Regions from separate parts of the Homo sapiens genome. Here region 2 is linked to region 1. The links come from fine-mapping of genetic effects on gene expression. A gene starts in region 1. The other region holds a variant in brackets. All regions are shown on one strand. Distances are between the middles of the regions. Region 1 holds the start of HAUS7 (HAUS augmin like complex subunit 7). Region 2 holds the start of BGN (biglycan).

Evidence for each region.
Region 2: its variant is fine-mapped to the expression of HAUS7 in tibial artery (GTEx, PIP above 0.99).

The regions. Positions count from the first base shown.
Region 1 is chrX:153,466,612-153,481,251 of GRCh38, forward strand. HAUS7 (HAUS augmin like complex subunit 7) reads right to left here and starts at 3,965. Exons shown (of 10, transcript NM_001385482.1): 1 at 3,839-3,965; 2 at 2,535-2,650. The coding sequence starts at 3,946. It also overlaps the pseudogene ECMXP. RefSeq lists enhancers at 3,257-3,436, 3,587-3,686, 4,200-4,494, 9,364-9,903, 10,099-10,599 and 1 more and a silencer at 4,017-4,326.
Region 2 is chrX:153,486,543-153,502,556 of GRCh38, forward strand. It overlaps BGN (biglycan), which reads left to right and starts at 8,438. Exons shown (of 8, transcript NM_001711.6): 1 at 8,438-8,571. It also overlaps a transcript of HAUS7 not described here and the pseudogene ECMXP. RefSeq lists enhancers at 1,877-2,691, 4,808-5,380. The variant G/A (reference allele first, on the strand shown) is at 8,871.

The sequences.
Region 1 (14,640 bases):
TTCACAGGAAAACTCCCATCCATCTGATTCTCCTGTAGGACCCTCAAAAGGCCTAAGGAATTCTCGCCAACCTGAAATCAGACAACGTCATCGTATGCTCCCTGGCAGCTTTTTCAAAGGATTCGGTTTCTGGTATTTACAGAAGTACTACAGGTTGAATATCCCTAATCTGAAAACCTGAAATGCTCCAAAATCCTAAACTTTCTGATCGCCGATATGACGCTCAAAGGAGATGCTCACTGGAGCATTTGAGATTTCGGATTTTCAGATTAGGGACACTCGACCAGTATAATGCATATATTCCAAAATCCGAAGAAATCGAAATCTGAAACACTTCTGGCCCCCAGACATTTTGGATATGGGACACTCAACCTGTAGAAGCATCTGAGGGGCGTGGCTTTGGCCTCCTACCCGTCCCTCTCTGGCCAGATGACCCCAGTTCCCCAAGTGCCCCCAGCTTCCACCTGAGTCAGGCAAATCTGCGCCCCCTCCCACAAGAGCCTCCTCCTGGGAGCTCGCTCAAGACCCTCACACTCCACCCAGCCATCTCCAGTCCTGCCTCACCTCCCAGCCTCCCAGGTTCCCAGGCCAGGGGCTGGTCCCTCCAGGGCCAGTAGTGGCTGCCAGACAAGCCATCTGCCACTCAGCGCAGGGCTCCTTCTGTCTTTCCCTGGGGTATTGGTCTCCCTGCCTGCAGCCATTGCCCTCCAAATCCATCTGCCACAGAGCACCCTGAGTCACCTTACCAAAATGCCAATCTCAGCACGTCGCTCCCCAGGTTCCACGCCTGCCCTGCCCAGAACATAAAGCTCAAAGGCCTTGGCACAGCATGCAAGGCCCTGAGGGAGCTGCCCTGAGCTGCCATTCCAGCTGCTGCTGCCCAGCTCTCTCTCCCACACCTCAACTCCCTGCTCCTGTCCAAACGAGCACCCCGCTGTTACCGTCCCCATCCCAGATCAAATGCCACCTCCTCCCTGCCAACATCCACAGCACCCAACTCAGACTGCAGTGCTGTGCATCATTTCTGCTGAACCCCAGGACTTGTACCCACTAAATACCCAGCTCCTGAGGACACCCAGTCACGTCTGCAGCGCGTGGAATGGCACACAGGTGCAGCCTGGAGAACCCCCCGACTGCACGGCCACACCATGCTGCGGCTCCCATACTAAAGAGCCGGAAATGACAGCAGGCCAAGAGTGCACCCACAGGTTGAGGGCTCCAGCAGGGGCAGGGTGTGCTCAAAGGCTGTGGGCATCCAGAGGGAAGCGGAATACATTCTGCCCTGGGAACAGGAAACATTTTAAAAGGAGACAGGACGTGTGAGTTGGGTCTTTGCGGGCTGTACAGGAGGACGTACGACATGCAGAGACTAGAAGGCCATTTCCAGGAGGGGGAACAATGTGAGCAAGAGCAAAAGGTTATGAAGCGAGGAGCTGCTGTGCTGAGCCCTGGGGAGAGGCCTGAGGAAGGGCCTAGAAGGCAGAGGCAGGAGACGCCTCTGGAACAGCAAGGGCTCAAACACAAAAACGCCTCCTCCTTCCTCTGGGGGCCTGTATCCAGCTGGGCGTCCTGCTGATGTCTCTGGTCCTGGCGGGCCAGACCGGCTGGATGCAGGTTGGCTCCCCACTGCTCTACTGCCAGGCTCCCGCCCAGGCCCCTTCCTCAAGCAGCAAGGGTAGGCAGGCCGCAGGCTGAGGAGGGGGAGGCCCGGGCCTGGACTCACGAGAGGCTCCTGTACCAACAGACTACAGCTGTTCCTGAGCATGGCCTGGGCACACACCCAATCCCACAGGAGCCTGTGCTCTGTGGGAGGCGGGGAAAGCCTTCTCCACTCACAGCTGTGAGGCAGTGAGACAGACCCTCAGCTCAGGGACTACGTCACCAGGGGAAGGATGTCTGCCCTGGGAATGGGACACTCTGGATCATTTCCTCCACCATCACTCAGGAAGTCACCCTGTCACCATGGGCTTCATAGGGTGCCAGGCACACACCATGCTACACCCTGGCCCAAAGGCACCAGAGGACTGGGAAACGGGTCACGGCACAGAAGCTGACAAGAGGTGACACTGCATGAGGACCACTTGGCCAGCTGAGACCCAGCCAGGAGCCCACGCCCTGGCCCTGCCTGTCACTCCTCCACTGGGAGACCAGAGACTGTTCATGCCTCCAGCCTGACCCTTGGCTTCCGGGTCTGAGAAGGAAAGGACTGGAATGGAGCATTTCTCAGGTGCCTGCCAGTCCTGAACCTCCAAACTCATAAGGCAAGGCAAACGCTGAGGGCAAGTTCAGCACTGCAGCAAAGGGGTGGCTGGACTAGCCCAGCACCGCCAGGGGCCACTTTGCCCCAAGTTTGATCATGCCTGTCACCAGTACTCCTTACCTACACAGCTGTTCTCACGAGGGTCCAGGCTAGGGGGTGGAGCCCTCTGGGAAGACAGCTACTCACAGTAACCACAAACCCCATCTTCCCCAGGTGGGGCTGGCTGGCGCCCATGCACACCCCAGGTGGGAAGAGGAAGAAACTGATGCATTACCGGGTACACATCCACTCTAGGATCTCCAAGCGGTACTCTGAGGGGCTGCACAGCAGTTCCTGAATTGTCTTTGGCTCTGTGATATACAGACCCTCGAGGAAGGGGCAGTTTAGGTCCTAAGCAAGGAAAAGGAAAGCAACATTCACTGAAAGTCCCAGTGTACATCATTTCATTTTATTTATTTATTTATTTTTGAGACGGAGTCTCACTCTGTCGCCCAGCCTGGATGGAGTGCAGTGGCATGATCTCGGCTCACTGCAGCCTCCACCTCCTGGGTTCCAGCAATTCTCCTGCCTCAGCTCCCAGGGTAGCTGGGGGATTACAGGCATGCGCCACCACGCCCGGACAATTTTTGTATTTTTAATAGAGACGGAGTTTCACCATGTTGGCCAGGCTGGTGTCAAACTCCTGACCTCAGGTATCTGCCCACCTCAGCCTCCCAAAGTGGTGGGATTACAGGCGTGGGCCGCCGCGCCCAGTCCTCAGTGTACATCTGCAAGCTCCCAGGACCCTTTCCTTTACCCGCGTCCTGCCATCTTGCCAAGAGTTCAAGTCCCCCCATTCTTAACCCCACATCTCCCGCGGCATGCAGACCCCACCTCTTTCAAGTACTCCCACTCTGGGCTCTTGTGGCAGCAGGACCTAGGAGCAACGCCTGAGACTAAGACTTAAGAGAGAGTCCTAGGTTTCGGGACTGAGGGAAAGGGGAGAGGGAAAGGGAGAGGGACCACTGAGCCAGTCGCGGACAGGATGGGGGAGTGTCTGGGGGGAGGAGCGAGCGGGCCGAGGGGACCTGGGACAGCTCCCTAACCTCGTGGGCCAGCTTTCCTCACTGCTGCAGTGAGGGCTCTGTCCTGTGGGGCTGTAGAGGGCTTCTGGAGGCTATCACCCCTGGCATCTGACACCAACTGACACCAAGCCCTAGTCTCGCTGACTTGACAGAGTGGCACGAGGCTCTGCCCATCTGTCCCCCCAGACCCCGCAAGATCCCTAAGGCCAGGCCTGGGTCCTCTGTGTCTGCACTTGCTCCGAGCGCCCAGCGCGGGTACTGCAGTTCCACAGGCGGTGCTGGCCCCAACTACCAGGCACGGGCCGTGGAGACAGCAAGAACGAAGGCCTGGGGCACACCAAAGGGCAAAGATGAATGATCCACAAGCACCCCCTGCTGCAAGGGAACAGGGCGCAGCCGGAACCGGCGACGGTGGCCGCGTGGCGCCGCGGACTTCCGCAGCAAGCCCTCCCGGGCCTCGGGCGGGGCCCTCCCCGGTCCCCCGCCCTGGAGTGGCTTTCTGGGCCAACAGCACCTTCAGCTTCCCGAACACCTCCACAGCCGCCCTGGACACGCTGCTGTCGCCCTCGTCCTCTGAGTAGTCGTCGCCGCCACGGCCGCAGCCAGCGTCCTGCCCCGCCATGTTTCGCGCTCCGAGCCGCGCCCCGCCCATGCCCTGGCTTCACTGGCCGGCAAGACCGCCAATCAACCTCCAGCGTTCTTCCCGCCCACCCGCCTGCGCCCACCCCCTTCCCGACCGACCCTTCCCATTGGGCGACATCTCCGCCTGCGCGGGCCCCGGGCTCCCACCCCCCGCCCCGGCACCACCCAGAGGCAGGACCACAGTGAAGCGGGCAGGGCGGACACAGGGAAGGGGGCGGGGCGGACACAGGGAAGGGGGCGGGGCGGACACCGGGAAGGAGGCGGGGCGGACACCGGGAAAGGGGCGGGGCGGACACCGGGAAGGGGCGGGGCGAACGGGCCAAGCTGGCTCTGAGTCGCAGGCCTTGCTGGCGTCGCCCCTGCTGCCGGCCGGGAATGATGATGCGTTGAAGCGAGGCTCTTCCAGGAGGGGGCGCTCCTGCCTTGGTCGGGTTCTCCTGGGCCACCACCACTAAGGGGCACCCTGGTTCCCAGGAGGACCAAGGGGAGCCTTGGGTGCAGAATGGAACTCGGACTGAAGCGTTCCTCTCCCAGCGCGGGGCTCCGTCTTCTCTTCACCATGCTCACGCTGTAGTTAGAAGGAAATTTCTTGTCACTCACCAGCTGTGTGCCTTTGAACCAGTTACCTAACCTCTCTGTGCCTCTTTGCCCTCACCTAATGGAGCTAATGAGAGCACCTTACCCACTGGGTTGCTAATGAGGATGGCAGGCGGTAATAATTCCTGTGGAATCCCTAGAACAGTGCCCGGCGCATGCGAAGAACCACGTAAATGCTCACTATTGTAATACATGCTGGGCCCTGCTCCCCTCACGGCTCCTGGGGCTACCTGTGGCTCCTTCCTATCCTGTCTACTTAACAAATTTTTCTACATCCCTCAGGACCCTCAAACTCAATGCGTCTGCAATGAAATATGTCAGTCGCTCCTCCCCCAGACCTGCAAAGCCCCCAGTTCACTGAATGCCCCTTACCCAGGGACCTGCTGATTGGGCAAGGCAGGAAGGAGTTGGAGGGTGGCTTGTGCCCAGTAGCCAGGAGACAGCAGCAGGCAGCTGCCACTGTGCCCTCCTCTGTGCCCTACCCTGCCATCTCCTGGAGGGTGGGATCAGGGGGCAAGTCTATAGTCAGGGAGACCCAGGGACCTGCTGGGAGGCAACTGCAGTCATCCAAGTGACAGGAGGGGACTTCACTCCGTCCTGGGAGGAGGGAGCGGGCAGGAGTCCGGGGGTCACAGGAAGGGACCTCAGCCTGGGAGGCCCCGACACAGGCCCAGCGAAGTGCCTCAAGGTTGCTCTCTACCCTTCCACGTGGCTGCTGCCTCAGGCCCTTCTGGTAGCTGAGGGCTGTCAAAGGCTTTGGGATTTTTTTTTAAGCGTTTTTTTCCCTCTTTTTTGTTTTTGTTTTTCTTTCTTTCTTTTTAGAAAATTTCATCTCAATCACAGCCCCAGCTCAGACATTCAAATTCTTGTGGGTTTTTCTGTGGATCTTTCCTAGGACTGGGGAATTTGGCGGAAGAAACCACGGCAGTGTGGCAGCCTCCCCCAACCCTCCCCATATTCTCTGCTCCTGAGGACCGGGAAGAAACCAGCTCCTGTGTACTCTGGAAGAAAATCTCCCTCCTCCACCCAGCTCCACGGAGCCAGTGTGCTCAACAGGCCTCCCCAACCTCAGCAGTTCAGTCTATGGGACCCTGAGGAACTGGCAGGGCCTTGAGAGGCGAAGATCATCTTGAGAGGTTATGGAGGCCATCCCCCTCATGGAGAACCTGTTGGCCAGCCCTCAGCCCCTGGAGATGGTCGCTGAAGACCCAGCAGCAGGCTGCAGCTTCCCTGCCCACGCCACCCCACCACCCACCACCCACCACCCACCACCTGCCACCCACCACCCGCCCCCAGAATCATAGCACCTCCCAGGCATCTTCCTCCGGAAAAGCTGGAGGCTGGGGAGGGAACAGAGAGGCTGCTGGGCCTCTCAGGAAGGGGGAAAGAAGGGGCCCAGAGGTAGAAGCTTCTGGAAATGTGGACTCAAGCTCAGTCCAAGAAAGCACTCCTCCCAGAAATCACTGTCTGAACACCAGCTGGCTGCCAGGAGAGGAAGGGAGCTCCCGGTCCTAGAAGGTCTACAAGCCCAGGGAGGTGGGTGGGCGGGGATGTGGAGGGTTGAGTCCTACCATGGGGGAGGGAGGGGGCACATCTCTAAGGGACATTCCAACCCAGAGACCCCAGGTTCTCTGAGGGAGGCCTGGGTGGGTCAGGAGCCAAAAATGTGGCTGAAGGACCCATTGACCTGGAGGAGGGATGTTGGGGGGAAGCTGTGGATGTGGCGGGGAAGCTGGGGGGTCCTGGTCATGGAGGAAAGTTGGCCATGCGTCCCAGCAGGGCCTCAGCCGTGTCAGTGCTTGGAAAACACGTTGGAAAATGAGACTGGTTCACGGCACTGGCCCCGCTGTGCCAGAGATGGGCTGGCGGGTGCTGGTGGCATTCGAGACCTCTCAGTTTGTGTGGTGGGCCCAGAGATATATGGCCAAACAGTTGAGCTCACCAAGTGGGCAGCCTCCCTGACCTGTGGAGGGTATTGAAAAAGTCCTCAGAGCATCCGGGCCCTGCTCTTCATATGACCTTAAGGGCAGACCCCACGGTGCAGCGGGAATCAACCAGGGACCCCCCAATCCCCCAAAGACACCGCGAATCAAAGGAAGCTGAAGTCCAAGGGCTTTCCTCTCTGCAGAGGCGGGTCTGCTTCTGGCAGGGGCTGGAGTTAGACCTGAGGGGGAGCCACCCCACCTGGGGGCGCCTAGGCCCTAGAATGCTGTCAGAGCTAAAGCCCTAGAAGGCCTTGCTCCACGGGGCCACTTCGACTCCCGGCCCTGAACCAGGGAACCTGGGGAGGAGCCTTTGAGGGACTGAAGTGTCCTCCATCACCCCCCACCCCTGGCCACTAAAGTTCCTCAGTAAGGGTGGAGAGTACCAAATGCAAGCTGTTGAAGACAAGGCAAGTGTGTGCGTGTGTGTGCGTGTGTGTGTTTTGGGGAGAGTTCAGGTCTAAGATGAGAAGCTGATCACACCCATGCGAGAAGCAAGTGGTGAGCCCTGGCATTGGGTTTGAGGGAGAAATGTGACAGAGTAATGAGGTCAGGCTCAGGACGGTCTGAGTGTGAGGCTCTCCGCAGGCAAGGCAAAGCCAGGGGGCTGCCTCTGCCTCCCCTCCCCTCCCTCCCCGTCCTGTCCTCCTCTCCCTCTTCCTTCTCCTCATCTCCTCCCTGTCTTCCTGGGACCTCTCTGCTGCTAAGCTGCCAGGCTGAGCTGTTGGTCACCCATCCACCCTGCATCCTGGCATGCAGGCTCAGTACCCAGGTCTTGCGGGCAGCCCACGCCATCTGCACCAGCCAGGAGCCCACCCGAAACCCAGCCCTATCCTTGCAGATGGGGGAAGGGATGGAGAACACGAAAGCAGGGGTGGGGGCCTTGCAAATGAGACAAGGAAGTGGCTGTAAGCTTGGGGGAGCCCTGCGGCCTGTGGCCCTAACTCTGGAGGGACCACACTGTCAACCTGGGAGCTGCCTGAAGACTCAACTCTACAACGTTCTCCTCCTAGGCCTCCGTGTTCATCTTTGGAGTCTACTGGCATATGAGAATGGAGAGGCTGCCTTGGGACCTTGGCTTCCTCTTCCTGTCACTTCTAGTCCCTATGCTGGGCCTCCTGCTTTAGGGCCCCACCCTCACCTCCTGCAGTTGAGGGGCCCTCACCTGCCCCATCCTGCCCCCAGGCCACCAGCTCCTGCAAGAGCACATTCCGCAGCGCAGTCAGCATGGTACCACCATCGCCATCACCATCGCCTCCAGTGGGCCTGGAGGTGCTACCATCACCTACCCCGCCCTGTCCCCCAGGCCACAGGCTCCTGCAAGAGGGCAGGGCCTGCGACCTAGGGCGACCCTTGCTCTGAGGCCAGAGGCAGTTGTAGGGGGTGTGGACAGAGTCTGGCTGGCAGGGAGGCAGTGGCTCAGCGGTCCATCTTTGTCCTCCTGCCCCGGGCCCCAAAAATGGGAGGGATGGTCTGGGGCCCTGGGGACCTTTGGGTTTCCCGCTTCTGCCCTCGAACTGCCTGTTTGCAGTGGACGCAACGGGAGAGGCGGGGGCGGGGGCGGGGGCGGGGGCGGGGGCGCGGGCGCTGGCGCGGGATGGGCGAGTGGCTGCGCGTGCACGCGGCTCGCGGGAGGTGGCGGGCGGGGGCGAGCGCTGCTGCACGTGCGCGGGGCGCAGCCGCGCAGGCGGCGGCAAAGGAAACGGCGGCGGGCGGGATCGCCCCCTCCGCGGGGAGACGCTCGGGTCTAGACGGCTTGGCAAGGCCGGCGGGGCTGAGTCACATGCGTCTGGAGCGGGAAGCGAGGGCGCCAGGACGGGAACACGAACGTGCCCGCTCGGAGGGCCGGCCGGGGGAGGGGGCGCCCGCCTCGCCTTCTTGCTTTGCCCGAGCTCCCCGGCCGGGCCTGAGCTCCAGCTTCTGCCCAACCTCCGTTCCCTGCCGAGGTCCTCGAAGCCCACCGGAGGGGATGGGGCGGGGCCGCTTTCACACGGAGTCCAGCGAAGCCACGCTATGGGCGGGAATGAACTCGAATTTCACACGGGCAAAGAGGGTGGGAAACTGGCCCCTATTCTGCCCCCATCCCGACCACGGCCCTGCTCCCTATGGGCTGGTCCCTGCTGCGTGCCACCCTCTGCAGTCCCCCTCCACTGGCACCCTCCACCCCATCCGCAGCCACCCTTGTCCCATTTGGGGTCCTGTGTTCCCCTTCCCTCCTTTTTCTTCTCCACCCCCACCCCGCAGCAGGCTCTCTCGCTCAGGATCACCAGGTCTCAAGCATTTAGTGCTCACCAAAGCGTCTGCAAGAAAAGTCATTTAATTGGGACCAGATCCTCTGAGGTTTCAGTAGCATTAAAATAAGATGGGTTTCCTCTAGGGAAGAGTTGCGGGCAACAGGAAGAGGGCATGGAAAATGGGGCTTTTTTCTTCTCCAAGCTTTAAGGGGGAAAGGCCCCATATTGTTACTGACATATAAGATAGCTGCAGGCGCATGTCCCCAGAGAATGCCACCCATGTGCCACACACTGCTGTCGTTTTCACTCAGACAACATGTGGAAAGCTCAAGAATGGGCCTGTTCCTTTTCTCTGGGGGTCACCCCAAGGCTGTGTCTCTGGCTGCCCTGGGCCCTGGGAAAAGGACAGGCACGTAGTAGGTGCTCCTGCAGAGAGCAGGAGAGCAGGAGAGCAGGAACAGCCCCCAGACCTTGACCCTGAGGCCCAAATGCTCCTGACCCCACCCGCTCCTCCTCGCAACCCCGCCTCCACCCTTGGCCAGCCACTATCACCTGGCCCCTGGCGGGCTCAGCTGCCACACGGTGGCTCCCACCTCCTACCCTTATGCCCCCAGTACATCTGCTCGTGCTCCACCCCACAGCCTGAGGGGGGCCGGATCCTGTGACTCCTCTGCTTAGCAGTCCAAGGTGGCTCCCTGATTCTTTCAAGGACAAAGGCAAGCCAGCCCACCGCCACAGACACCTTCCCACGGCTCACTCAGCCTGCTCCACCACATTGCTGTCATTGCCAATGCTCAAATTGGGCCCAACCCTTTCTCACCTGGGGCCTCTGCACTGGCCATCCCTCTTTTTCGGAGGGCTCTTTCTGTGGCTTTTTGCATGGCCATGGCCTCTTCACTCATGCCTCTGCCCAAATGTCACTTTCTCACGGTCCTCACCTGATCCCCTGTCAGTGAGCAAAGAATCCACTGTCCAGTCCTCGTTGATGACAGCCTTGAGGGACAAACAGCATTGCTTTGGCATCCTCCAGGCTACCAATCTGAGTCCCAGCTTGTAGAGGGTATGTGTGTGCATGAGTGTGTGAAGAGTGGGCTACATGGAAGGGAAGGGGGAGGAGGACAAGGGACAGGAGTCCCTTCCTTGACCTTAGAATCCTGGGATTGTACAACTAGAAGCGACCTTGATCATGTAATCCAGCTTCTCTAGGCGCCTTCTGGCTCTCAGATTCTAGAACTTTCTAAGGAGCCTGTTTCCACCATACTGAAATGAGAAGACTGGGGCACTGAGGAGGGAGGGAAGCTTGTTCCTGATGTCACATGGCCAGTCCGTCCATGGCAGAACTGGGAGCCCAAAGCTCTTTCCAGCAACCCTCGGGCTGCATCCCTGGTTCCTGGAAAATCCCAACAGCCCTCCCACCCTCTGCTCCAGACACCGGGCTCGGGATTACTGTTGGCTTGGGGCCTGCCTGTCTCAGCACAAGTCCGTCAGTGAGCTCTTGGGCGGGGGGGAGGGCAAGGCAGAAACTTGCCGGGAGCCTCTGGCTCTGCTGAGCCCCTGAAGGCTGGCTCTGCTCCATGGGGGTTCCTTCAAGGTCCCCACAATGGCCGGGTGCCCTGGGACTGGACAGAGTGGGCAGCAGGAGTACCACTCCCCAGGGGCCCACCCAGGTCAGCCACCAGGCTCCCGACCAGGGGAAGGGCAGCGAGGCCAGGCCTCCATGGGAGCTGGGAACTGAGAGCACCCCAGGCCTCACCCCTTCCTGCCTAGGTGGGTAGGAGCGGAGTCCCTCCCTCCTCCAGGCTGGCTGTGCCAGAGAAACCTGGGAGCAGGCTTCCCCCACCCCCAGCCCAGCTAATGGGAACCAGATGGCAGGATGTTTAGTCAGCGCCTGGGGAGCGGCGCAAACAGGGGAAATGGGTAGGGGGCCAGGATTCCAGAATCCATCCCCAGGCAGGGGGAGGGGCGGAGCCGGGGTTCCCATCACCGTCCAGTCTCCCGACCCCAGGTGCTAGGCTCAGCTCAGGCAGGGACCTACCCCGTTTCTCAGGCGATGCCTGGACCAGGAGGCAGGAGGACTGGCCTCTGGTATCGAGACTTGGGTGAGCCCCACTCCTTCTCTGTTCCTTCTCTGTAAAATGGGGGGTCGACTGTGCTCTGTCTTGCAGGATCCTGGGGCAAGCTTCACTTAGTCTTGGCAGCATACTTCAAGTCTGCCGTGCCCCAGTGCTACCCTGTCCCAGCTTCGGCAGCTGCCCCCAGGCAGGACACTGGCCCACAGCCATCCTGTGTCACCCACAGGACGCACAAGGAGATGGTGGCCTCATCCCTGACTCCAGAGGCATTTGCTGACTCCCTAGATGGTCCCTGTTTCTGGTCTGTACGTGGCAGGGTCCAAATTCAGGTCAGAAACCAGAGCCCTGGATGGCGAGGGTACCCTGGATATAGCAGAGGACCCCATGTGGCTCCTACGGGACTGTTAGCTGGAGCGGCAGCTCCTCAAGGAGCCCAGTGAAGACCCAGTTGCCAGGCCTCCTCCCCACCTTGACCAGCCCTGCACCCCTCTGGATCTCACACATTGCCTCATTGCCCCAGGATGGAGACTCCTGCCTGATGGCCCTTGCCGGCCCCTGCCCCTCCTCCACTGCTTCCCTTCTCCCCTCCACCCAAGCCTTGCCCACAATTAACTCATTTCTTAAGATCGCTTCCAAACCTAAGTCAACGCTGGACAGGGCTGTAGGAAAAGCTTCCTCAATACTGGCCCTGAAGAGCCGAGCCAGCGGTGAGATCAGTCCTCTCTGCCAGCCCCCGCCTGCCTGCTCCCACAAACCCTGGCTCCCACAGCAGAACGCGGGGTTGGGGCTGCAGGGACACCCCAGTTGGAGCAGGGACTTCCGGCAGCCCTCTGAGGGTGGCGGGCTCTAGGAACTGGAGCCAGACACCCCCTTATTTGCCCCTCACTCCACCACACGCCCCTCTGGCCCCACCCAGCAGTCCCCTCATCGAGCCCAGCCTATTTTCCACCTCATGTCATCCTGACCCACAGGTGCCCCTCTGACCAAAAGGATGCGTGCAGCCTAGGCACATCAGAGATCCCAGACTGTTGGCCAAGAAGTCTGGGGGGGACCTGTGACATGGCTTCACCCAGGCAGTGCCTGGAACACCCATGCTCCTATGTAGGGGGTCGGGACAGCCACAGAACGTCAACTCTGCCCCCTACCCCATTTTACAGAGGAGAAGGTAGAGACCTGGAGGGCAAGCAGAGGAACCAGGAGCCAGCCCAGCCCGAGGCACACCCATGCCCAAGCAGCACTGGGGTCTCAGGCACGGGAGGCATACCCTCGCCGCCTGCACTGTGCCCACAGATTCTATTTCCTCTGGAACCCGGAGGCCTCCACAGTGCTGCCCACGGCAGAAGCCCACGGCCTTGGCACCCACCCCCTCTCCTTTCGCAGCCATGGATGCAGGGCCCAGCAGCCTGCGGTGGCCGACCCGCTCTGTGGTGGGCCTCTCAGGCCTGCCACGTGTGAGACAGAAGCCCCATTCATGGAGGCCACTGGGCCAGAGCCAGCGGAGAATCAATGCGGGCCTCACAGCAAAAGGGCAGGACCGTCCGGTCTGAGGAAAGGGCAATCTGTCTTTCTCTTCAGGTGGGAGCAGTGCACGTTGTGGGGAGTTGGGGGCAAGGTCGGGGGAGGCGTTTGCTCGACAGAAGGGGGGCCTTCCCAGGGAAGGGCTGGGGTGGGCAGGGAAGACTCCAAGTGCCGCAGCCAGGGCCAGGAGCTCAGGGAGCAAGACCAACTTGTGCCGTCCGCCATCGTCCTGCCGTGGCCACCACCGTGCCTCTCCCAGCTCTCCTTCCCTCCATGGCAGCCAAGAGGAGTGTGCTGCTCCCCATCCTGGCACTGTGGGCGGGGAGCTGCTCAGGAGGGGCCCCACCAACCCCCATGGGCTTGGCTACCCTGCAGCTGCTGCCCAGCCCACCAGGGGCCCCCGACGGTGAGTAGCTGGCACCAGCAGGAAGAAGACTGCCGCAGGCTGTCCACCTCAGGCCCACTTTGGGTACTCAGGCAGGGCTGCAAAGGGCCCATGGCCCTGAGAGAGCCCTCCCTGGAGGGCGAGGGGTGTGCGCAGACTCTAGGGGCGAGGGAGGGAAGAGGCCTTCCTAGGAGCGGGCGCTACAGTGAGGCTGAGAGCGGGCTGGGGTGTGCTGGGGAGGAGTTGCTCTGGCTGCCCCAGTGCCTCCTGAGACAGGAAGAATCTCAGGTGGCTGGGAGTATAGGGCTTGGGGGTGAAGTGGGGTTGCTGGCAGAGAGGGGCTTGAGGGGCCCGAGGACATGGGCTATGAGTGTGGCCTTTGTCTTATAGGCCAGTGGTTGTAGCCACACTTGGTGGCCCTGCCCCAGGCTTGGGGGTAGGGCGGGAGGGGCCAGGTGGGTGGGTCTGCCCCTCACCCCTGCAGACAGAGCGGTGCCCCCCATGGTTGGCCCTGGTTAAGGAGGAGCTGCTCCATAGAGGACAGGAGGCATTGGGGTTATCAACATTCCTCCAAAGTGGCTCACAGACCCCTTGAGGTGGCCCCTGGGCTTGCCTAATCCCCAACAAACCCCCTGTAGCAGACACTGGGGCTTTCACTTCTAAAAGCAAATTGTGCCAGGTCGCAGCGACCCCTTCATCTCCCCAGAAGCTGTCCCTAGGAAGCACGTGTGAAGTCCTTGCTCACTAATGGGTATGGGGCAAAGGGGATGCTGGGGAAACGCCCTACCCCCCACCCTTGGGACACACTGGGGAAGTGAGGGGAGGTGGGACCCAAGGTCCCTTGAGCAGCCCAAGGCTTTCTACCCAGGGCTGCTGAAGCTCCCTGGGCCCAACCACCGGTCCAACCCCTGGGCCTAACCTATAGGCCCAGCCCCTTAGCCCTAATGGGCCTAGAGCGCCACCCACCCCCCTCCCCAGCAGTGAGGAGCTGTGTAAGTTCTGAGAGGTACTCTGGGTTACTGGCCCCAGGGGCTGGTGGCCTGCTGCTGACGGTGGGGACACTCTGTTCTCTCGCCAGTGCTCCTCAGGAGGTAAGGGAAAGGCGGGGCGGGGGGAGGCCTGGGTAAAGAGGAAGGGCGATGGGCTTTCTAGCAGCTGACAGCCCCTTGGGGAAAGGAGGCAAGGCCCCCAGCCCACACTGGCTCCTTCCGCAGGTCAGCTGCAGCCCATCCCTGGCATCGGCCACCCAGACAAGCCTGAGGCTGGGAAGCTGGACCAGTTGCGGGATCAGCCCACCCCGAAGCAGGGAGCTCAAGGAACCCCCACCCAGTCCCCCTCCACTGGCTGGAAAGCGCTTCCCAGGCCAGGGCTGGCCCTGAGGAAGGAGTCACCCCCAGTGACCTTGGAGCAGGAGCAGGGTCACAACAAGGGCCTGGTCGCTGAGTGGGCTCAGCCCCAGGCCACAGCTGCCATGAGGGCTGGGGCAGGGAAGCCCGAGGCCTTGAAGCTGAGGCCCTGGCAGGCCGGCAGGGACCCTCAAGCTCAAGAGGGGGCAGCAGTCACCGAGGAGGACCAGGGCCAGAGGACAGGAGGCCGGGAAGACAAGGGAAGGGGCCTGAAACCCAGGAGGCCCCCCAAAGGTGAGAACTGGCCAGGACAGGCGGCCTTCAGGTGGGGCCTGGGGCCTGCTGGGGCTGACAGGACCACGCATGAGTTTGGCCACCCAGGCACTGCCCCGTTCCCGGTGTTTCCAAGCCAAGTGCCCTCGTGTGTGGGGTGGGAGGGAAGCCCTCCAAAGTCACGTCCCCTCCCCAGCCTCAGAGCCCCCATTTGGGCCTTTGCCCTTGGTGCCAAGGGGAGGGGTCCCAGTAACCTGTCGCTCCAAC
Region 2 (16,014 bases), 21 kb after region 1:
CAGGGGTCTCTGTCTCTTCTTGAATGATGCCTACCCCGTCTTTCCGGGGTCTTCTCTCCCCTGCTCTGCCCCACCCCTCCCTTGCAGACAAGTGCCCTTGAATTCCATCTGTGACATGCGCGTGGCTCAGGACTCCAACCTTACCTCCACACACCTGGAGAACAACCTCATTGACCGGCGCCGCATCCCGCCCACTGCCTTCTCCTGCACCCGAGCCTATCACAGCGTGGTCCTCCAGCCCCAGCGGCGGGGGGAGGAGGGCTCCTAGTCCTGCCTGCCGCCTTCCTCCAGCACACACTCTGCTTCTCGAGGGGGTGGAGGGGCAGGCTGAGGTGTGCTTGGCCTTTGCACCACTGGGAGAAAGGTCTAGAAGACCCCACTGCTTCCAGTGCACCCACTTCCCATTGACTGGTGAGGCCGCTTCACTTAGCAAATGGCCCAGGGGCGAAAGGTGGCACTGGTTTGTACTTGAACATAATAAATGCAGCTTGGGCAGGCTCACCAGCCAGCCTCCCTCCCTCCAGGAGCTACGCTGCATGTCCTGGCTCTCCCATGTCCGTGCGGTTCCTGGGCTGCACCTGAGACTGTCAGCAAAGAGATTCAGAGGGCTTGGGTCCCACAGCTTCTCTGAGAGCCTCCCCACCCCCACCCTGCCTCACCAGGGTCCTGAAGTCCTTGCTCGGTCCCAAGCCATCAAGAGGCCAGGCTCCCCACCCTTGCTTGGGGCAGCATCTGCACCTGATCCGTCTCATCCCTATCCTGGGCCTGGACCCAAAGAGGTGGGCTTGGCTGGCAGAGCAGGAGGGTGTGGAGGTTCAGGGCACCTGCCATTGGTCCTAGAGCCACCCACACCTGCACTGAGGCCTGGGGCAGGGGCTGGTGACCACCGCACAGTGGCACCTCTCGGGAAGCCCCTTTGCCTCTCCCTTGACACCTCCCCCCCATTCCTGGCCCCAGAACCCTCATCCCAGCCCCCAACATGCACACCCACCTGCAAGAGAGGTCCCCAGGGCCCCACCCTCAGCTCACAGATGAGTAACTTGCCCAGAGATGTATGGCTGGCTTGCTGTGAGACCAGGCTGTGCCCCTATCTGACCTGGTGCCAGGGAAGGGTGGGGAGTGAGCACGTGGTCTGTGCAAAGCCAAGCCCCGCCCTGAGCACTGGGCAAGGACCACCCCTGGCCAGAGTTTCTGACTGTCTGCCTGAGCGAGGCCGGCCCTCCATGTTGACCTCCCCATGTGCCAGGAGTCCCTGGGAAGTGACAACTCAGCCCTGCCGAGCCCTGAAGACAGACTGGCCAGATATGCTGGTGGAGACACTGGGTCTGCGGAGCCCTCGAAGGCCACTGAGGCCATTGCCCCGTTGGCCTGCCTGAGTGAGGGGGCCCCTGGGAACCGGATGGGTTTCCTGGGACAGCCTCCACAGCTCTCTAGGCCACCAGGCCCTGTGCCAGGAAGGGATAGGGACAAAGGGTCACAACCGCAGGGAACACGACAGCCACTGCCCTGGGATGGGGCTCACAGAGACAGCCAGGTGACAGGCATGAAGGATGCCGCAGGAGAGGGCCCAGCAGAGACACAGCCCAGCCCCAAGGAGCGCATGGCTCCGTCCCTGTCCTCTGTCCCTCTAACTTGTGAGCCTCCAGCATGCCCCTCTGGCCCTCGCTATCCCACCCCATCACCTCAGCACCCCCATCTCGATCTGGGCACGGCCTTCCCATTCCCCGGCCTTTCTCTACCCTGGCGGGGCCGCCCCTCTCCTTCCCCTCTGCCTCCGGGCTGCTGGATGTGGGTGGAGCAGAGGAGGAAGGGCACAGGGTGTCCGCTGCAAGGACCTCGCCCCGCCATCAGCTCTGCCTAGGACCGGGGCCTGGGAACTGAGTCTCGCCTTGCTCCCATTCCATGGCCGATTCCCCCTACCCCTGCCCCCACCCCTGAGTTCTCAGTGGAGAAAGCGCCAGACTGTGGCGGGGGCGGGAGAGGCCTGGGAAGCTGTGGGCTGTTTGCTTTGGACTCGTCCCGGCATTCCTTCTCCTCCAGCTGGCCCCTCAGATATGGCACTTCCTGTTTGGGCTGGGTCAGAGGTCAGCAGCCCACGAGGCGCTGGCCCCACTCTCCCAGCTCTCACGACCCCTCCTCCCTGCCTGGCCGCCCCGGTCCCTGCGCCTCTTGCTCAGGTCACCCTGCAGCCCCCACCTTCTCGCAGTCCCAGAGGTCAGGCCCGGGAGGCACAGGAAGTGCAGGCTGGGTGAGTCCCCGACATCTCCTGCCCACTTCTTACCACTGCCCGACAGATGAGGCAGGTGGGGAGGAGAAGGGGAGGGGCCCCTCAGCTGCAGGAGGGCAGGGGCCAGGCAGGCCACCCACAGGTGGTTAATTCCACTTCTCAGAGCCTCGGCGGGGGCTAATCCTCCTGTGACCTTCCCAACTGGGGAGGCAGGGGACTCGCACTTGGGAAATGTACCTGCGGGCTCTTGGGGTCGTCACCTGGCCAAGGGAGAAGCTGGGCTGCAGCCGACCCCACAGGCCCGGCCAGGCCTCAGCCAACCTGCACTCCGAGATGGGGCAAAGGGACTGGGCCTTTATTTCCCCCTCATGACTGGGACAAGGGTGCTGTTTCCAGCCCAGGGGATTCCCCAGAGGGCCAGGAGCTCAGGGCTGGGGACTTCACTTCTTGGGGCTGTGGGAGGGCTGGTCAGAGTCTAGCTGGCACCACGAGGGAATCTCTAGACAGAGCCCCAGCCCGAGAGCAAGGGCAGCCCAGCCGTGGCCCTGCACCTGCCCCTCCTTCAGCACGGGCCACGCTCCGACACCCACTCACTCCCACCTTCTCTGTGATTACTGTGCTCCTCCTCTTCGGGGTGGCTGCTGGCTCCATCTGAGGGTACAGCAGTGGGTGCAGCCAATCGGTGACCCCAAAATGCTGGGCATCTGAGGGGACATTGCAGTGACAATTGCAATAGTGATGGCAACAGGATAGGTGTGACTAGGGTCAGAAGGGAGGCACTCATCAGTCCTCAGATGGGGATGGGGATGCTGAGGTGATGGGGTGGGACTGAGAGTAAGGACAGTGGGGACAGCTCACAATTCAGAAGGGTGGAGAATGGGGGCAAGGAGCCGTGCCCTCCCTGGGGCTGGGCCTGTGTCTCCGGCCTGAGACCTGGGTGGGACCTTGCACCTCTGCTCCGCCTCTGCCAGCTGCAGTCCCAGAAAACTGCCCATCAGCTTCCAAATTCTTCTCCAACTGCCCCTCACTGGCCCCCCACGGGCCCACCCCTCGCCTTCGCCACATTCTGTTCTGAGCCCTCCCTCCAGCCTAACACCCCCGTTCACAAGCATCTCGCCTACTGTGCCACCCTCCACCCCCTACCCCCATAATAGCTGCCACCATGGCCACACGGGGACAGTCTGGGAGATGCTAAGCTGTCTGGCCCTCAGGCCAGGTGCTATCCCACCCCATCTTCTGAGCATCTGGGCCAAAGATTGCTCCGAGCTGAAGTCAGGGCTCGGGACAGGGCCCAGCCCCTTCCCACTCCCACCAGAGCCTCCTGGTGCTGCTCCTGGGCTCTGGCCTCTGGCCTCCCTGAGGGAAGACCACAGGGGTCCTAGGGTGCCCCTGGCCTCTGGCTCCCGGACTTCGGCTTCCAAGGCAACCCATCTTCCATCCTCTGGCCACGCCCCAGACCATGCCTCTCTAAAGATAGCTAGACGCAGGCCAGGCCTCCCCGGAGCCCCCACGCAGGCCCTGAAATTACAGCCCTGGTGGCCCGGAGGGGAGAGATGCTGTGTGATTATGTCCTCAGAGGAAGGTCAAAAAAAGCTCCTGGCATGGAGAGTGCCAGCTTTCACCAGCCACACCTCGGCCATCCAGCACTGGGAAGCTTCCAGAGAGTGGAGGCTCCGCTCACTCAGCACCAGCTCAGCTGCCCCAGGGCATGTTGGCACAAGCCTCCTCCATAACCGCCCCACCCCCTGAACCCAGAGGTCCCCGCTGAGCATGAGCTTCATGCCGCTTCGAGGCCGCAGGTCATCCAGAGACCCTTGAGTGGTGATGGGGTTGCCCACTGGTGTCTGCCCCCGAGGGTGCCGACACTGGGAATGGACGAAGCCCACAGGCTCGGAGTGAGGCCCACTCAAGGCCATAAACTTGGGGCCGCTCTTGCTCAAGAGGTAACCTCGATGTGTGAGTGACAGGTCCCTGGATGGGAATTTGCCCTGGAAGCTGAGGCTCTGCAAGAGCTACTCCCCAATGACAGGCGGCCTCAGGGCACTGCCTCCTCCTCTAGAAGCTCTCCCTGCCCCCCAGTCTTGTACGGGCACATAGCACTTGTCACCTCCTTGCTTCTTGAGGGTCTTGCTGATGGTCCAGGGGGTGGGAGTGCTGCCTGTCTGCCTCGCCCACTGCAGCTCTCTGTCCCAGCTCTGTCGGCTCTCCCTCTGTCTCTCCGTCCCATCCCCAAGACAGGCATGGGCCCTTCTGTTCACACCATCAGAATGGAAGGGTGGGGAGGTTCGTGTCCAGGCAGAAGGGTTCGAGAAGCAGCCACCCACAGAGAAGAGGGCCCACTGGACACACTTGGGGAGCAGGGCAGAGGGAGCCCGGGGCCCAGTTCTTGTTTCCAGACCCTGGAGAATCATGGAACAAGCAGCCCACCTCTGTAGGGGACCCCTGCATAAGAGGCCACCTCCCAGGCTCCTAGGCTCTGCCCTCTAGGACTCACACCACCCGCCAGTATTTCATGCCCAAATGGGACCAGAGAGCTCACAGCCTGCCCTCTGGGCGCCCCCACCCTGCTTCTCTCCTGGGCCTCCCTGCTGTAGCTTTGAAGACAGGGCACAAACAGCTGCAAGCCAGCTGTGGGGGACAGGCTGCAGCTGACTCCAGGTCCTCTTCCCCACACTGGCCAAGGAGATGGCAGCTGGCTTAGATCCCTGCGCCCTGCCTCCCCTCCTCCCAGCCCCCTTCTTCCGTGGCCCTCTCCCTCCCTCAGACATGTCCTTGTCCCATCCTTCCGTCCCATGGCTGCCGCCCCACCTGCTACCTTCCAGCAGCCGTCCTGGGCGCTGTCCCAGGCAGGCTGGGGTGGCAGCTGCCTGATGAGGCCTAGACCAGAGTTAGGCTCAGAGCAGGGAGACCACAGTGTGGCCTGGGGCCCTGTGCAGGGGCAACTGCCAGGGCAGGACAGCTTTCCCTGCAGGGAAGCCTGAGCAGGCTGCCCAGGGCTGCCCTCCCCACGCAGCTGAGGGGGTTGGGCTCCTTGTCAGGTGGAGAGAGCTGAGCTCTCGGCTCCATCCGGCAGGAGAAGGGGTCTCCCGGGCTGGGATGCAAGGCAAGGCTGGTGCCAGCAGGACCTTCTGGCCCTCTACAGCCTTTTGGGGGAAGCATCCCAGCTAGGGCCTAGGGGGCCTGTGCAGTGGCATCCCAGGGTCACATACAGGCCGTGCTGGAAGGGGCCGGGTTCTGCTTCCCCCACCTCCTGCTCCCTGTCTGCCGCGGGTTCCTGGGGAGCTAAGACAGCTGTGTGTCCGCCTCCTCCCCAGGATCCCTGAGGGCCTCAGGAAATGCCTGCTCTTCCTTCCTGCCTTGCGCCCCCCGTGCCTGCCTTCCCCCTGCTTCCCCCTGCCTCCTCCCAGCCCTGAGAGGCCAGAAGGGCAGAAGGCTGCCCGCCCGCCAGCTCTGCTCGCTAGCAAGGAAGCACTGTTCCTAGAGCACTTCAGCTGGGATCAAAGTACCTTCTGCGCTGCAGAGAGAGCCCAGGCCTGAGGAGGGGGGAGTGGGAGGGGGAGCAGAAGGGGGAGGCCCTAGGACTGAGGTACTGCCTGTCTGGTCTGGGAGTGGCCCCCAAATTAGAGGGCCAGGCCGAGTGACTCAGTGGGCCCTAGCCAGGCCGAGTGACTCGGTGGGCCCCGGGCCGGGCGTGCAGTTATGGCTTATTGCAGACTGCAAACCACAGATACAAAAACCTTCCAGGTACAAGGACCGTATTTATATGAGTATTGCCCCCAGAAGCAGCCCCCAACTTCAGGTAAGAGCTGCAAGGTGCATGCATAATGTGTCTCCCCCAAGCAGGGTGTCGCCTCATCGCCACTTCCAAGCCCCCATCCAGGAACATGCCTGGCTGAGACCTGAGGGTGAGGTCGGTGCAGGGCCGGACTGCAGCGCCGCCTGGCTCCCCTGTGTCTCCCCACACCCCCCCGCACGTGTGCTCTTCCTTCCACCGGCAACTTCCCTCTTCCCTACTGGTCTGCTCCAGGTCACCTCCTCCAGGTAGCCCTCCCGAGCCTCTGGCACTGTGCATGGCCCTGCGCCCCCACGGTATTCAGAGCTGTTTCACCCCCACTGGGACTCCTGGAGGCTGAGGCCCTGAGTGACAGCTCCTGGGTTCTCAGTCCCCAAGCAGTGCAGGAAGGTACTGGGTACCAGCACCTCGGGCAGCAGGCATGCCTTGAGTGGGTTTCTCCTTTTTTCTGAAACGGCTTTACTGAGAGTGGCTGTGCTTACCACACGATTTGCGCATTGAGCACGTACAAGGCAAGGGCTTTTATATGGTCTATTCACAGAACTGTGCAACCATCACTCAGTCGATTGTAGAACATTTTCATCACCTCAAAAAGAAAACCCATACCTTTAGGTACCACCCCTCTAGCACCCACTGCCCACAAATCCGCTTTCTGTCCCCACAGATGAGCCTAGTGTGGACATTTCAAATGAATGGAACCAGAGGCTCTGCGGCCTTTTGCGACTGGCTGCTGTCACTGAGCGGAATGTTTCCAAATGCTTCTCTCTCCACCCAGACTGCTAGTCAGGCTTCGCTGCCTGTCCCGCTCTCTACCGACATATTTCTCCACGAATGAGTTGGCAGTGGGGGAGGGAAAGAGGGTGGGACAGAGATGAGACCAGGCTGCCAAGAGTCGGACGCTGAGGCTGGGCAAAAGGTAAAACACACAAACCTGCCGAAAGACAAGCCATCTCCTTTGTCTGGAAAGGGCATATGTGGTCTCCAATCTCCTCATTCCAACCATGAAATCAAGAGAGAACCAGGGTTACCAGCCTGGCCCCTGGTTTCCCACGTCTCTCTTCTCCCTGGCCCAGTCTAGAAGCTTCTTGCAGGCAGGTACCACAGTTTGGTCAAGGTGCCATGCGTCCCAGGTCCTAGCCAGGCCCTGGGCTGCCGCTGGTGAACAGGAAGGGGGTCTGTGCCCTGCCATGCCCCCAGGTAGAGCTCCCCTGGGAGCATCCTCCCTGGCCTGGGACCTCCCAGACCCCACCCCCCGGTTGAGTGATGGCACTGCCAGGGGTTGAAGACCCTCAGCCCTCGACGTTGTCCTCTCTCCATTGGATGCCGCCTCTCTCTAGCCACCCCTCTCTCCCTCTCTGCCCCTTCGAGCTTTTTCTCTCAATATGCAATTTTCTCTTTTGGTCTTCCGCACTCTTGGCCCCCAGTTCTATTGCAGATCTGTTTCTCACTCCATCTAAACTCTTACCCCTGTGTCTCAGGAGCTGCTCTTGCTGAGGGAAGAAGGGGACACTACGGGACAGGGGGGCAGTGTCGTACTAAGGACCTGGGCTCTAGCCACTGGAGGAACTGGACTCATTTGGGCCCTCAGGAAGCGGCTGAGTCTTGGTGGGGTAACCCGGTTAGCCCCCGTAAGTGACCAGCACAGGGCTGAGCCCAGAGGAAGTGGCCACCCACAGAGTGGTTCTCATGTCCGAGGGGACCTGCAGGGATTGAGCAAGAAGACTGACTCGCTGGATCCTTCGTCTCTGAATCAGTTCAGGGCAGGCAAGCTGGGGAGCCCCCTGCCCCGTCCTGCCACCACCAGCCGGATCGGGCCCTCTTTTTAAGGGAAGAAAGTCTGGAGTGGAAGGGAGGGCACAGGGCGCCAGGAGCCTACATGAAGTCCTTCCAGAAATCCACAACAGCTACCTCTCTGATCCTGGAGAAACCACCTCCTTGCTTAGGCCCAAGCAGGTTCCTGGCAGGCTCAGGACCAAATTCCAGGGGCCACTCATGGGCCTAGCAGCCCAAGGCCGCCTCCCCCTCGTCTTTCTTCCATCTCTCTTTCCTCTGCCTGGCGAGATGCCAGCCAGCACCTCAGTGTCCCCATCTGGGCAGTGGAAAGTTTGACTCTCTGGGTCCTTGTTTGAGTGAGTGCGAGTGTGTCCGTTCCTTTGCTGTCTGCCCCAGGCGGGGGAGGGGGGGGGAGGTGGTGGGGGCGAGGGGGCGGGGGCTCAGCTAGTCCAGCCGTCTACAAGAAAATTGCTCCCTTTGAAGCTGCCAGGGGGGCCGGGAAGCCTGCCCCCTCCTGCTCGCCCGCCCTCTCCGCCCCACCAGCCCCCTCCCTCCTTTCCTCCCTCCCCGCCCTCTCCCCGCTGTCCCCTCCCCGTCGGCCCGCCTGCCCAGCCTTTAGCCTCCCGCCCGCCGCCTCTGTCTCCCTCTCTCCACAAACTGCCCAGGAGTGAGTAGCTGCTTTCGGTCCGCCGGACACACCGGACAGATAGACGTGCGGACGGCCCACCACCCCAGCCCGCCAACTAGTCAGCCTGCGCCTGGCGCCTCCCCTCTCCAGGTAGGGCTGGCTTCAAGCTGCCTCCTCAGCAACCCAGAGATGCCCCTGGCTCTGCTGCCTCCGCTGTCCCAAGCCCTGGTCCTGCTGTCCCCAGTGCCGCGAGGGTGTCCACAGATTTCCCCGGTGCTCTCTGTAGGCTGCTGATCCACGCCCCTTCATCGCCACCCTGCGGCCCCCTTGGTCCCTGTCAGGCTTCTGCCTCGTCTCGCCGCCCTCCAGGCACCTTTCCCTCACCCCTTCCTCTCCCTCTCCCTTCTGACCTTGCTCTGCTTCATCCACCTCTTGTCTCTCTGCCTCCC[G/A]CTCGGGGTCCGTCTTCTTGGCTACCACCCTAGAGCGTGGCTGGGTGACTGGTACCCCAGCTTTGCCAATGGCCCTGTTTCATCATTGCAAGTCCCAGGCGCATGCTCCACTCCCTCAGCCTCGCTCTGCCCAGGCGCCTCCTTGCTCCAGGGCTTGGCGCCTGGCCCGGGTTGGGTCGGATCGGGGAGGACCGCCCAGCGCCCACCGAGCTCAGCACCCAGGAGCAGTCCTCCGCTGCACTGCCTGAGGCCAGTCCTTGGCATGGGCTGAAAGACTTAGTTTCCCAGGCACACCCCAGGCACCCTGCCCAGATGTTCCTCGCTCGCTCACCCCCAGGTTAATGCTCTGCCTCTACATCCTCTGTGAGAAGTCTGGGTCCTGGGAGCCCTGGCTGCAAGGGCCCTGACTGGGGGTGCCTGGGTGGCTCAGCCCTGTCTGTTTCCAGGACCCCCTTGGACTGGGACTCAGAATGGGTGTGGAGGGGAAGGAGAGAAAATCAGGCAACTGTGCCATGCTCCCCAGGGCGGACCTGGCTTGGGGTCCCAGAGGGGCCTGCCAAGGGACCCAGGAGAGGGAGCGAGAGAGTGCCCTGGAAGGCCCACGGAGGGGAGCGCCCCCTCACTGCTCCATGGGCGGGGCTGGGTGCCTGAGCGCCTGCTGAGCAGAGCAGGGGGCCCAGGGATCTGCAGGGCACAGGGTACATCAGTCTCCAGTGGTCTGTCTTGGTGGGCAGGCCTCTCTCCTGCTGTCCTGGCTGCCAGACTGCTCAGGTCCCATCCTCAGGGGGTCCTGTTTCTGGGCCCTCGCCCCTCCCTGGCCTGCCAGCTCTCTGCCCTATAGCAACTAATTGGAACTGAGACAAGCTGGAGATGCTCAGCCCCCCTGCCCCCGTGCCAGAAAGGCTCCCGGGGACCAGCGCCCAGGGGTGCGGGTGAGCACCTCCTGGTGACACCCAGCCGCCGGTGCCAGCCGCACCCCAGGAGAGCTGGTGTATGAGCATGGATGTCTTGGTGCGGAGCATGCCCATGTATGGCCACTGTGGGCCAGCATGGTGAGCCTTTGAGGGCAAGCCCGTGTGGGTATATTGAAAGGAAGATGCAGGGCTGCCTCCAAGCCACCAGGGCTGGGCGGTGGGAGCAGGTTGCGAGCCAGGGAGCAGAGAGGGCTCCCATGGCAAGCTGGCCAGCTGTGGGTGGCAGCCCTGGCCTCCCTGGCCCACCTTCAAGCCCCAAGGACCCGTACGGCAGTGGGCATTAACCCTACCAACGCATAGATGGGGAGTCTGGGAAAGGAAGGGGGGTGTTTCCAAGGCAAGAATGAGTTTCCTGTCTTTAGCAACATTCCAGAGTCACTCAAACAAAGCTATAGCGTGTCCCTTCCAGTGACAGCGCCAAGTCCCCAGAGGAGGGGTTTGTAATGAGTTCACACTTGACAGTTAGCACTCAGAGCCTTCAGCAAGGGCTTCTGAGTCCTTGCCACCCCGTATAGAGGTGGGATGAGGACCTCCCCACCTGCCGTCTCCTGTGCTTCCCGGGCCCACCCCCCACCCCCCACCCCCCAGCATCTCCAGCCTGCCCGGGAGTCACATGTCCTCGGCCCACAGAATCCCCAGCACACGCCCCACCCACAGGCCTAGCCCCAGCCCTGGGGTCCCTGGCACCCCACCTGCCAGGGCCCCTCCCCTGCCTTGCTCACCCCCCAACACCCCTGCTTGTCGGAAATGTCTTCCCATGCCCACCACGACCCCCTCCCACTCATCTGTGGGCCGGAGAGCTTGGTCCCTGCCGCACGTTGCCCCCCTAGCATCCAGGCCCACCACCGAGCCCCCGACAGGCCTGGGAGCCCCACTGGTGGGTGGGGACCCACCAGCTGGGGGTCTTGCTCACACCGAGGGGCTGGGGGTGGCGGTGGCTTTCCCAGGGCACCCTGCCTTGGGCTGCAGGCCGCTGGGTGGGCACCGGCTCCCTCGGAAGGCAGCGCAACCCGGGATCCTGCCGGCCCTGGCCCCCACCCTGCCGACCGGGCCTGGGGCGATCAGTGCCCCAGCTCCTGTCCTCTTCTGCTCAGATGCTGGGTTGGGAGATCAGGGGCCACAGCTCGGCCACTCAGAGCCCTTTCCGCAAGTCTTAGAGGGACCAGCTGTGGGGTGTGTGCAGAGGGGCTGCGCTGTGGGGAGGGCGCATGGCTCAGTCCTCCTGGCCTGAGGCCCGCCTAGCCTAAGTGGCCTCCAGGACCCATGGCCAGGCCCTTCTGCAGCCTTCCAGAAAGAACCAGCTTCCCAGGGTTCCCTGGGGAAGGCCTGGGGCCACCTCCTCTGGAGGGGTGGGGCCTGTGCTTCATTCCTCCTTCCCCAGGTCCCCTTCCAGGCCAGAAGATCCCCTCCACCACTTGAATCCCACAGCCAGAAGCCCCTTCTGGGACTCTAGACTCCTGGGAACCATCCCAGCTGCCCCCTTCGCTGTTTCGCTGTTTGCCTTCTTCCCCTGCCCCGTCATGGCTCTAGGTCAGAGCAGCCTCTGGGGTGGCTATGGAGGGGCCACCAGCCTTGGCTCTTCCGAGGACTGCAGAACCCTCCCACTCCCAGCTTCCCACCTGCGCAGCTCTGATCCCAGCCAGCCCAAGGGGCAGGGTCAGGTCCCGGCTCCCTGGCAGGCCTGGTGAAGGTGCTGCCCATTCCCATGAGGCTCATCTCTGAGGCTTAGGGGCCTGGGGCTCTAGCCAGCCTTCTTGCATGGAACTCTCCTGGTCCACTGCATCTTAAGCCTGAGCTCCACTTAAACACTGGCCTGAGATAAGCTGGAGGACCAGGGGCCCAACGGACTCTGTGGGCCTCTTGAACTTGCCTCTGCTGGCCATCCCAGTCCTGTTTGGTCCCTGAGGTGTTCAGATGGGCCAAGGGGAGCATGGCGGGCAGACTCCTGGGTGGCCAGAAGATTAGAAGGCAGCCCTGTCCCTGGAGGCAGGGGAAGTCTGGGAAGCCAGTGTGACTTCTATCCTCTGGAAGTCTGAGTCCCTGCTTGGCCTTGACTGCCATCCCATGGTTCTTGGAGGCTGCCCTCATGCAAAGAGACACACACCCATGGGAGCCCAGCAGTCCCAGGAGCCTGAAGCTAAGCAGGCTGTGGGCCACCCTGGCTGGCTGAAGGAGGCTAATCCCAGCCCAGCCTGAGCCCCCGGCAGAGAGCGGGTTGCGGCAGGGAGGGGCTGCAGGAAACCTTCCCCTCCCCTCCTGGCCTTGGTGGGCCTGTACCAGGGAGGGAGGGAGGCAGGGCCCCAGGCTCTGGGGGGCAGGCCGGGAACACCTTCCCTGGGGCCCTGAAGTGCTCGCCTGGGGAGACGATGGCTTTTCCAGGAGACTCCCTGCAGACAGAGGCAGAGGTGAGAGGCTGGGCGGGGGCTGCCCTGCTGGCTGTGTTGGGGCTGAGGAGGGGCTTCTGGATCTGTGGGCCATAGGGAGCTACTGATGGTCCTCAGAAGGGCCATGCTTCCAGGGGAGCCCCCTGCACAGCCCCGAGAGTGTGAAGCGTGTCAGCTTTGGGGCCTGTGGCACTGTGTGCATTGGGAGAGGGTGGGTCCAGACATGGGGGCAAGGACACAGACGGACAGACAGACAGTGTGTGCAGCCCCAGCTCTGCTGTTTCCTCACCGTGTGGCCTTGGGCAAGAGTTTGGGGCCAACTTCCTGAGCCTCAGTTTACCCCTTCATCAAGTTCTAAGAGCATTGCTTCCTTCTTATAGTCAACGGGGGACGGCAGGATGCTAAGTAAAGAAATCACATGAGTCCCCTGCTCTGCCTCTGAGAGGTGACAGCATCCTCCCTTTTCCTTGGAGACTCTAGCAGGAGGCCCCGGATCTCTTCGGAGAGTGGGAGGGGGCAGCAGTAGTCCGTGTGCAGAGGACCAGGAGCGCACAGTGGGAAGGGCTGAGTCCCGCACTCCGCCGACTGTGGGGACAGGCTGGACCTTGACATGGGCGCCACAGGCTGCAAAGGGCTGGCACAGAGAGGTGGGAGGTGGCTGGGCGCATCAAGGGAGAACTCCACCCTTGTCGCCACCCTGCCAGAAAACCTCTGGAAAGGATTTGAGCAGCAGATGAGCCGGGGTTTCCCAGCCCCTCCACACGTGGCTGCAAGGGGAGCAGACGCCCAAGCGTGGCTGCCTGAAGGGCATGCTCCGGCAACGGCAGGGGCTTGGAATGTGGCACAAGGTCCACCCCTCCCCACTCCAGCCCCCAGCCCCTCAGGCAGCCACTCCCACAGATGAACGCACACGCCGGGCTTTGGCAAGGCCAGGGAGGGTACACATCCCCTCTCTGGTTGATGCCCAAGTACAGGCTGGAGCCATCGGCGGGGAGGGACTGGTGGACTGGGGCCTGGGAGAGTGGCAGGGGGCAGGCCGGGTGTCAGCGGGGGCACAAGCACCAGGCTGCTGGTTGAAACTGGGCCCAAAAGGCTTTGGAGGCCAGAGGGGAGGGGAGGAAGGACACAGTCCCGGGGACCCCGCAGGGCTGCGTGGAAGGTGGCACATGTGTCAGAGTTCAGGTCGGGTTGCTCAGGGGGGCAGACGCCCAGGGCTGAGGCTGCGGAGACAGCATCCGGCGTCTGCCACTTGGCAGCTGTGAGCCACACCATCTGCAGGCGAGCTCCCAGGGCCCGCCAGACCTCAAGCCCTGCTCCCGCCGCCCTTGGCCTGGCCTGAATGCCTGGCACGGACCCTCCATGTTCTCAGAGGCTGCCAACGCATCTTGTTTGGCTGTGACCTCGAGCAATCCAGTGCAGAGGACTGCGCTAGCTTTCAGAGGGGCAGACAAGGAGGGCCCTATTGGGGTGGTGGCGGAGGCTCCAGGAAGCCCAGCCTCCTCCCTCACTCACACCTGCGGTCGCCAAACCTGGGGCTTATGCCATTGCCGCCCCTGTCCTTTGCTCTAAAGAGATGGTATCCAGGGAGCTCAGGGCACACTTTGGTGGGGCTTGAAACCCTCCCTGAAGTCCCTGAAGACACACCCAGAGAGGCCAATGAAGGGAAACTGAGGCCCAGAGGCCTCAGTTGTGGTGGTGGAGAGTTGAGGACTGGAGGGACTTGCTGTGGGTCTCACAGGATCTGACTATGGGGTATTCCTGCTTCCTGGGCTGGGGTCCCCGCCTGCCTTATCTATGTGTGGATATATGTGTATGTATGTGTATATGTATACATATGTATATGTGAATGTGTGTATGCATGTGTGTATAGATGTGTGCATGTATGTGTGTACATATGTGTATGCGTGTATACAGGTGTATATGTGCAGGTATGTATGTATGTATGTGTGCATGTATGCATGTGTGTGTGTGTGTACGTGTGTATAAATGTGTATGTGTGCGTGTGTGTGCATGTGTGTGCATGTGTGTATGTGTGCATGTGTGCATGTGTGTATACATGCATGCATGTGCGCATGTGGATGTACATGTGCATGTATGTGTATAGATGTGTGCATGAGTGTGTGTGCATCTGTGTATATATGTGTGTATATGTGTATCATATGTGTATGTGAATGTGTATACATGGGTATGCATGTGTGAGTGTCTAGGTGTGTGCATGTATATGTGTGTACATGTGTGTATAGGTGTGTGCACGTATATGTGTGGATGTGTGCATGTATGTGGATGCATGTGGATGTGTGTACATATGTGTTTTGTATAGGTGTGTGCATGTGTGTGTGCACGTGTGTACATATGTGTTTTGTATAGGTGTGTGCGTGTGCACGTGTGTGTATGTGAGCGTGTATGTGTGCATCTGTGTGTGTGTTTGTGTGTGTATGTGTGTACGTGTGTGTGTGTGCATGTTCTGGCAGGAGGGAGGGGCTTGGTGTGAGGTGGTGGGGAGAAGGCAGGGGCCAGGCTTTGGGAGGACAGCTGAGCCTATACTGCCAGGACCTCCCAAACTGCCACCCCCAGTCTTGGGCATTCAGGCTCTCACAGGCCCAGAGACATGGCTGGAGCCCTGTGGCTGAGGAGCACAGCTGAGAGCTCAGGCGGGGCCTGGAGGCGCCAAAGCTGAGTTCCAAGTCAGGCTGAGTGACTTGGGAGAAATCAGAGCCTCTCTCTCGGCCTTAGCTTTTGTGTCCATAAAATGGGGATACTCATCAGGCCAGCTCCAGGGGATCCTATCCTTCCCCCCAGGCTCCCCTGGCTCCCTCTGACTTCATGGGCCCCTTGCTGCCTCCTGTGGGCTCAGACACGGAGCCTGCCCCTTCCTCGGGAGAGGTCTCAGTTTTGTGCCAGTTCTTTGAGGGGAAATGAGGGATGTGCCGGGAAGCCTGCCCGGCCCCCGCCCCTCCAGCCTGCCCACTGCTTGGGCACAGCCATGAGCCATGGAAAACCAGCCAAACCTTGTCCTTCTGCCTCTGTCACGGGGCCCGGGTGTATGGGCCTTCCAGCCCTCAGCCTCCCTCCCCGCTCTGAGGGAACCTCTTCCCCTTGCCCCTTTCTCAGTCTCTTGGAGACCCCCCAGACATCCTACTGTATCAGGCAGCCTGCCTCCAGAGCCCTCGTTGCCCCACAGCTGGTCCCGGGAACCCGCCTGAGACCCCGATGGCCAGTCTTGCCGTGACTGGCCTGCCCTGTGCCTGTGCCCCCTGCCCTGGTGGAGGGCCCGATTCCCTAACAGGAGGGCCTGCAGGGAAGTCCCAGCTCCTGGGGAGACCCCTTGCCCCGGGGCAGGAGTCCCTGTAGAGTCCTCCTCCAGGCCAATGCGTGGGTCCTGGGGGGCTCCAAGCTGGCCATGGTCAGATGGTCCTCTGTCCCCTCGGCCTTCCCCAGCCCCTCCCCACAGCCTCCCGTAGGCCCAGCCGGACCACCCCAACCCTACCTGTCCAGGTGGACTGCCCACCCTGGAGCTTGCCAGGGCTCTGGCGGGGTGTCCCAGCCCTGACTCACTCTCCCTGGGAGGTAGCGGCTTTGGCAGGGGCATCGGCAAGGAGGGGCAGGGCAGTCTCCTCCCTCCCCCACTCCATCTTGCTCTCCTGCTTCCACCCTGCCCTTCCTGTTCTCTCCCACTGCTCCTCCTCCTCCTCCTCCTTCTGCCCCCGGGTGTCCACTGGCACTGGGAGAGGGTCCTACAGCGGCAGCAGGCATCGGAGGCCCTGCCCTGCCCTGGAGGAAGGGAAA